Homo sapiens: one gene and its partner. The protein of the gene in region 1 purifies or fractionates together with the protein of each later gene. This does not show direct contact. Each region holds a gene or a part of one and is shown on either strand. Other genes may lie near its edges.

Region 1 (3,819 bases):
TAAATATTCTCTTCTATATTGAGGAAGAGATATTCATCTATTTTACTGATAATAGCAAGTTTGGGGAGGGGATCATAATAGTGAATGATGGCCAAGATTATAGAATAATAATGTATAAAATAACTTTGGGAAATTATAAATAAGTCAAAATAGAATTAAATTGTTCACTAGAGAAAAGAAACAAAAACTGGCTACCAGATCATGTTGGACAATGTTCTGGCTCTGCAAATCACTCAATAGAAAATGACAAATTCCCCCCAATCCCCACCTTTTTTTTTTTTTTTTGGATTTCTCTTCATCACCTGTAAAATAAAGACAGTAGAGTGGTTCTCTATGTTCTCTCTCTTAATGCTAAAATTCAATGGAAGGAAATTAATGCTCTGAGTATAAGGACATAGTATCTATAAAAGGCACTGCTTTTAAATTCAGCACTCTTAATTTCAGCATTACTAGACATACATTTAGAAATAGTACCCCAGAGTCTTTAGGTTATGAAGACATGCCAGCATTTTAAGAACATTTATGTTTGCATTGAATTATGGTATAGATAAGGTGCCCACAAACCCATTTGCTATAACTTGCCCCACTACAATCACAGTTCTCTTTTTCTATAACCTCTACACCACATAAATATGTACATTTTTTATTTTAGAATATGATTATGCATTATTCTGTGATTTTCTTGTTTTCACTGAACATCAAATCTTGGGCAATCTTACATAAGTCTTCCTTATTCTTTTTAATAACTGAGTAATAGGAGTATACCACAATTTACTTATCCATTCATCCAGTTGATGAATATTTGGGTTATAAATACTCCAGTTTGTAAGTGATATTACAATCATATTTTTGCATGTATTTTTTTCTGTACTTCAGAATGTATTTAGGGAAGCTTGGAGGATTAGAATTGCTGATTAAAAAGTATACATGTGGTACATTTTATATTTGATATATAAAGGCAAATTGCCTTCCAGAAAAGCTTTGTCAATTTACAATCTTAGTAAGAGTGCCTATTCCCTTGGTTCTTCACCATCAGTGAATGTTATTGATCTTTTTAATATTTGCCAATCTGATGATTATAAAAAGAACGTCTTCTTTCTGATTAGAGTATCAAATCAAATTCTTAACAAGTTTGGGTGCCTTTTCACATGATTAGAAGCTATTTATGTAGCATTCTTTCTTGAATACATAAAATATAATATATGTAAATATATTCTACATTAAAAAAGCTACATGAGATATGTATATGTGTATATATGGATAAAAATGCACTTAAAATACACCAGAAAATATTAAGAGTAGTTACCCAGGGGAGTATAATGACTGAGAATGGACCATGCTAAGGGGGAAATTTCATGTTTAGCTTGGATTTTTTACCATGAGAATAATGTTACTTTTATTTATTTAATTTAATTTATTTATTTATTTATTTTTAGTTTTGAGATTGAGTTTCGCTCAGTCACCCAGGCTGAAGTGCAGTGGTGCAATCTCAGCTCACTGCAACCTTCACCTCCCGGGTTCAAGCAATTCTCCCCCCTCAGCCTCCCGAGTAGCTGGGATTACAGACACCTGCCATAATGCCTGGCTAGTTTTCGTATTTTTGTAGAGATGGGATTTTACCATGTTGGCCAAGCTAGTCTTGAACTCCTGACCTCAAGTAGTTGTGCCCGCCTTGGCCTCCCAAAGTTCTGGGATTACAGGCGTGAGTCACCATGCCCAGTCTTATTTATTTTAATAATACAAGGATTGCTAAATAGGAATCATAAAAATAAATGAAATTTTATATGGCTGGCTATACCCTCCTTTTTTGTTTGTTTGCTTCTTCTCCTTCTACTTCTGGAAAATAACTCAGCTGCTTTATTTCTTGTACCAACTCCAGTTGTTTCTCCACCACCTTGAAGAATTTTGTAAGGTCCAGTCTTAAACAGTCTGTTCTCTCCTACAGATATCTCATCTCATGGCCTCTCTCCTCCAGAATCTATGTTGCGATTCTCTCACACTCAATTTTGTCTCTCATAGCCTGCCTGGGACTTCTATTTGACTTTAAACAAATAATGGCATTGCGTTAATCAGAGCATCTATGATGAAAGCAACCAAAGGAACATATAGGAAGCTATGAGAAGAGAAAACAGGGTCATTGTAGGGCGCTAATCCCGCCTGCATGGTAAGAAAAGGCTTTCCTAAGGCAGTGGTATTTACACACATGTGAGTAGGAGTTGGCCAGGAAATTGTTGGGGATGGGAGAGAAATATTCCAAACTGAGGCACCAGCATCTGGTAGGCCCTAAAACAGGAGTAAGTAAAATATGATCAGCATGACTGAAACTCTTTGGGTAATGGCCCAGGTCAGATAATTTTGTGATGGACTCATTGGAACCATAAATCCAGACTAAACACCTGTGTGTGTGTTGGGAGTTGAGAGGAGGGGAGTTGCACCAGAAGGAAGAAGGAAGGATTCCCCTGAAAGGAATAGATCTTCCCATTCTTTACAGTCCTAGGAAGGGAACATGGAAAAATAGGTCTTAGACTAGAGTGAAGAGAAATATTTTCTGCTATCTCTGGGGCCAAGGATCAGTTTGGCCTCTGGGTTCTAAGACATGGGCAGTCTGATGTGTTTATAGTGGGATTGAGGAGCTGAGAGTAGCTCCTTGCCACAAATATATGTCCAGAAGTGAGGAAGCAGAACAAGTTAGTACGAAGTCATGAGAAAGGGTTCGAAGCAGCATTGTCCAATGGAACTTTCTGCAATGATGAAAATGTTCTATATTCTTTGCAGTCCAGTATAGTAGCTACTGCGTACTTGAAATGGCTGGTGCTTGTGAGGAACTGAACTTTATTTTATGAAATTCTTACTTTATTTAAATAACCAAATGTAGCACATATTGAAGAGTACACATCTGTAGCAAAACTAGTGTGATAATTTGGCCTTGGGTCTATTGAGAAGATTAGAGAAAGGTGTACACATGCACACATGGGAAGTGAAGCAGTAGAGGAACATAATGTCTCTGGTAATGCCTCCACAGAGATGTCGGTGCCTAGAGAATCAGGATTTCATAATAGTCACATCCATAGAACGTTGGTGAGACATGATGAAGGGAGAAAAGACCCCAAGGGGCTTTTTCTTGCACAAGTATGAGGTAGAGCCTTGGGAAACGGTCAGAAATCACTAAGGGACAGTTTAGAGGATTCCTATTTCTAGCAATAGAGTGAGGGTGTCTTGTGTCATCATTAATACGTTATACTTGGCAAAATGTGACAAATTGAAACCAAAATGCCACAAATAATGGTTCTTTCATTCTTTTATTCATTTTTCTTGTTTAACTCTCAGGAAAATTTCAAAAGTAGCAGTGCCCTTAGTTCACAAGTCTGGCTAAGCTGATGCACTACACATGAACAGCAGTAGACATCTTTGCTTTCTTTCTCCCTCCCTCCTCTGTAACAAGCTTTTCTTGGTTGTCTTCACTTCTCCAGTTTTGGCCAACACTCAAGGTTAAACCACTTGTTTACTAAAGGCACTCTTCATCACACACTGATCCAGATTAATTTTTGTAAGTGCCTGTTGTAAAAGTACACAGAGAGTTTGAAAAGGCAGGAAGCTGTTAGAACTTGTCACAAAAATCAGCACAAAGGCAGCAGGATTTGGAAGGCAAATTTTTCATTTGTAGTGAGATACAACTTCACTTCCTTGAGTTTTGGTGATGACGCCATTTGCTAGCATTATTCATGAATTTTAACAAATCAGATAAAACCACCACAGAATTCCTCTGCCATTTCTAATTGTGCCAACTGCAGTAGTATTGGATTTGTCTTCATGCTATCA
Region 2 (3,819 bases), on another chromosome or scaffold:
TTTCACCATGTTGGCCAGGCTGGTCTCGAACTCCTGACCTCAAGTGATTCACCTGCCTCGGCCTCCCAAAGTGCTGGGATTACAGGCGTGAGCTACCATGCCCAGCCGTGTTTCTTGTTTCTCCCAACCCTTCCACTTCTTCCTATTTTCATGTTTTCTCTCTCATTTCTCTTTTTCCTCTCCTTTCCTTGTGAGTTTAGATGGCATTGTGATTAAGTTCTCTGGCACAGGACTTGTCACTCAGCTTTGTCATGTCAGAGGACAGGGTCCCTCTGTGGCTGAGACTTTGTAACTTCAGTCAGTTGCTGAATAATCCAGAGTACTTCTGCTGACAGTGGCCTGAGCGGGTGGGGGGGAAGTGACGGGCAGAATTTGGTGTAGCCACACCTGAGACTGAGCCTCCCCTCAGCCCCGTGTCTGGCACCATCATGGTGGGTGGGACCAGAGGGTACATGTGAACACAGACAAAGATTTGTTTTGGGGGTGAAGGTAGAGCTTGGTCAGGGGAAGCCGAAGAAAGTCATATATCAGGAACAGCCCAGGAGTTAGCCTGTCTGTCCCCTTTCCACAGCAACAGGTGAGAAGAAGGAATGCTGGTCGTGGGAGTCCTACCTAGAGGAGCAGAAGGCCATTACTGCTCCAGTCAGCCTCTTCCAGGACGTGAGTTGGACAATTTCCCCGTAGGAACAGCTTGTCTTCCTAGCCTAGGGACACACCACCAACCTCAGGCCTTCTGGCGTTTTCTGTGTCAGGCATGCCTCAGTGGACTGGCAGAATGGAAAGGGAGAGACTGTTTAGGGGCCCAGAGTGGAAAAGGGCCCCCCATAAGGGGCTGGCAGGGTGGGAAGAAACAGAGAGGTGGAAGCTAGGCTCACTCATCACTGGGCCTGCAGACTTTTGAATTCTGGTGACTTCTACTCAATTCAGCATTGATCTTTCCATGACTTTGGTGAGAGGGAGCCCTTGAGTCCAGCCCTGACTCACCCACATTTTTCAAGGGACCTGGGAGATATTCTCTCTCTCTCTCTCTAGATCCCTGTAGTAACGATCCCCAAATAAGTTGCCCCTTTGGAAATACCAGGCGGGTGGGGCCTAAAGGCAGCTCCTTCACCCCAAGCCCACTAGGCAAGGATAAGGCTGGATGGAAGCTGGGTCCTCTCCACTCTGTGCGTTGACAGTCCCAGGCAGTCACTCACAACAAGAATGGCTTCAAACTGGGCATGAAGTTGGAAGGCATTGACCCTCAACACCCGTCCATGTACTTCATCCTCACCGTGGCTGAGGTGAGCTGGGGCTTGGTACCACCTTTCTGATGATGTCTCTCAGTGCAGATTGATGGATCTTGCTGGGGACATAGAAGGAAACACCTCCCTCCCCTCAGAGCACACACAATCTAGTAGTGGATGAAGCTGGAATACATAGAAAGCTTAAAACAACAAAAACCAGATGGAGTTCATGGGACAGTCCTATTATTGGATGAATGTATACTGTCCACTCTGGGGGAGCTTGAGGAGATCCCGAGGGCCAGGGATGTTGGCATGAGTCAAACAAGGTCCTTGTCCTCTAGGAGCTCACAGTTGTCTGGGGAATCAGCCAAATAAACATGTCAGTGACATGCCACAGGGGTGGCAGCAGACTTGAGCTGGGAGGCACAGTTGGGTCAGTTCTGTCTGAGGAGCAGCAAAAGCATAGAGGAAGGGCCTCCTTTGCAGAGTCTTGAGAGATAAGTTGTGAATAAGGAGGGAGCTCCAGGCAGAAGGAGCAAAGTGGGCAAAAGCCCTGGGGCATGGAACAGACTGCTACCTTCAAGGAATTGCCACTAGCTCAGCAAGACTGGAAGCAGAGTGCGAGTGGGGAGCAGTGAGAGAAGGTAGCAGAGGGAGCGGTCATCAGGAGCCCTCAGCAGTCCTGAGCCTTGGTGGCTGCCCTCAGAATTCTGTCCAGGGCTCAAAAGGGCAGGAAGCTGTCATAGGGTCCACCTCCCTTGCATCCAGAACTCAGGGCTCATGAGTACATGAACTGTCCTCACTGTAGAATAGGACAGGGTGGGGTACAATTGGGAGGAAAGAAAGGTGGGGTTGGGGAACCTGCTAGCATTAGAGCCCCTGAGACCACCAGACTGGGCCAGGAGAGGTGAGGCAGATGGGGAGTGGGGCATCTCCTGACATTGGAGTTCCTGATTCCCCTCATGGGGCCAGGTATGTGGCTATCGCCTACGCCTGCACTTTGATGGGTATTCTGAGTGCCATGACTTCTGGGTCAATGCCAACTCCCCTGACATTCACCCTGCTGGCTGGTTCGAGAAGACGGGCCACAAGCTGCAGCCTCCCAAAGGTAAGGCCTAGCTGGGTTGGTCACAGTGAGGCAGTGAGTCCTCAGACCCTTCGCTTCTTCCCCTTGGGTCCCCGGCTTCCAGCTCTTTTGTTTTCTGACCCTGTACCCTGTTCCAAAGCCAGCCTCTCTTCATCGCATCCTGATGACTCTGCGCTGGGGCCAAGTTGACCAGAAGCCCTAGAACTTCCGCTTTGCACTTGCCCTTTGAGTGTCTACTCAAGTCGTGTCCTGCTTCAGTAGTGGGGAATCCCTGGGCAAGTTCTTGAGGGTTGGGGGGAGGTCCTCAGGCATGCCTGATTCTGCTGCTTCACTGTGGGGTGCCCTTGCTGTGGCCCAGCCTCTGCACGGCGCTCTGTTCATGCCCCTCGAGGGGCCTAGGTTACAAGGAGGAGGAGTTCAGCTGGAGCCAGTACCTGCGCAGCACAAGAGCTCAGGCTGCCCCCAAGCACCTGTTTGTGAGCCAGAGCCACGTGAGTGCCCCTGAGTGAGAGTGGATGTCACTCCCATGTGCCAGAGTTCACTGCAGCTGGCCCAGGGTATCTGACTCATCAGAAGGGAGCTCATGTGCTGGTTCTCTCAGCTTTGTTCTGATCTCTCATATCAGATGGGAGGGGTACAGCTGGGCAGGGTCCAGGGCCAGAGATGGGAAGCTGGTTATAGGTTTTTCCCGACTTCCCTCCCTCCTTTGCTACTGCAGATACCCTGTCCTCACATCCCCTTGGAGCCCCTGGCCCACTACCCTAGTCTGAGCACTGAGATGTCATTGCTCATATATTCTTGCTTTGGCTTGCTCTGCAGTTCTTTGGTGTAAGGTCAATGCCTCTATTCTGGGAGCTTCTTTTTCTTTCCTTTTGCCCAACATTGAGACTCTTCCATTTATTTCCAACAATTCATCCCTTGTCCTTTCCTCTGTTCAGGGCAGCTGGCAGCTTATCCAGCAGTTAAAGTATCTCATAATCCCAACCAAAAGGCCTAAGAGATACAGGGAGCCTCCATTAAAAATATCATACTGGACCAGGTGTGGCGGCTCATGCCTGTAATCCCAGCACTTTGGGAGGCTGAGGCGGGTGGATCACCTGAGGTCAGGAGTTCAAGACTAGCCTGGGCAACATGGTGAAACCCCCATCTCTACTAAAAATATAAAAAATTAGCTGGGCGTGGTGGTGGGTGTCTGTAATCCCAGTTACTCAGGATGCTGAGGCAGGAGAATCGCTTGAACCTGGGGGGCGGAAGTTGCAGTGAGCCAAGATCACGCCATTGCACTCCGGTCTCAGCAACAAGAACGAAACTCCGTCTCAAAAAAAAGAAGTATGTATCAGTCTTACTGGCTGGGTGCGGTGGCTCACACCTGTAATTCCAGTACTTTGGGAGGCTGAGGCGGGAGGATCACTTGAGCCCAGGAGTTTGAGACCAGCGTAGGCAACATAGTGAGACCCCATCTGTACAAAAAATGTCATTAAATTATTAGCTGGGCATGGTGCATGT

The links.
Region 2: the proteins of WDR49 (region 1) and L3MBTL1 purify together in Homo sapiens (affinity purification with mass spectrometry, with the first as the bait; one large-scale study listed by BioGRID). This does not show direct contact.

The regions. Positions count from the first base shown.
Region 1 is NC_000003.12:167,643,789-167,647,607, forward strand, and holds part of WDR49 (cilia- and flagella-associated protein 337), read right to left. Parts: intron 1-3,819.
Region 2 is NC_000020.11:43,528,086-43,531,904, forward strand, and holds part of L3MBTL1 (lethal(3)malignant brain tumor-like protein 1), read left to right. Parts: intron 1-571; coding exon 572-660; intron 661-1,117; exon of another isoform or gene 1,118-1,178; coding exon 1,179-1,283; intron 1,284-2,198; coding exon 2,199-2,334; intron 2,335-2,712; coding exon 2,713-2,804; intron 2,805-3,819. UniProt on the Homo sapiens protein: Polycomb group (PcG) protein that specifically recognizes and binds mono- and dimethyllysine residues on target proteins, thereby acting as a 'reader' of a network of post-translational modifications.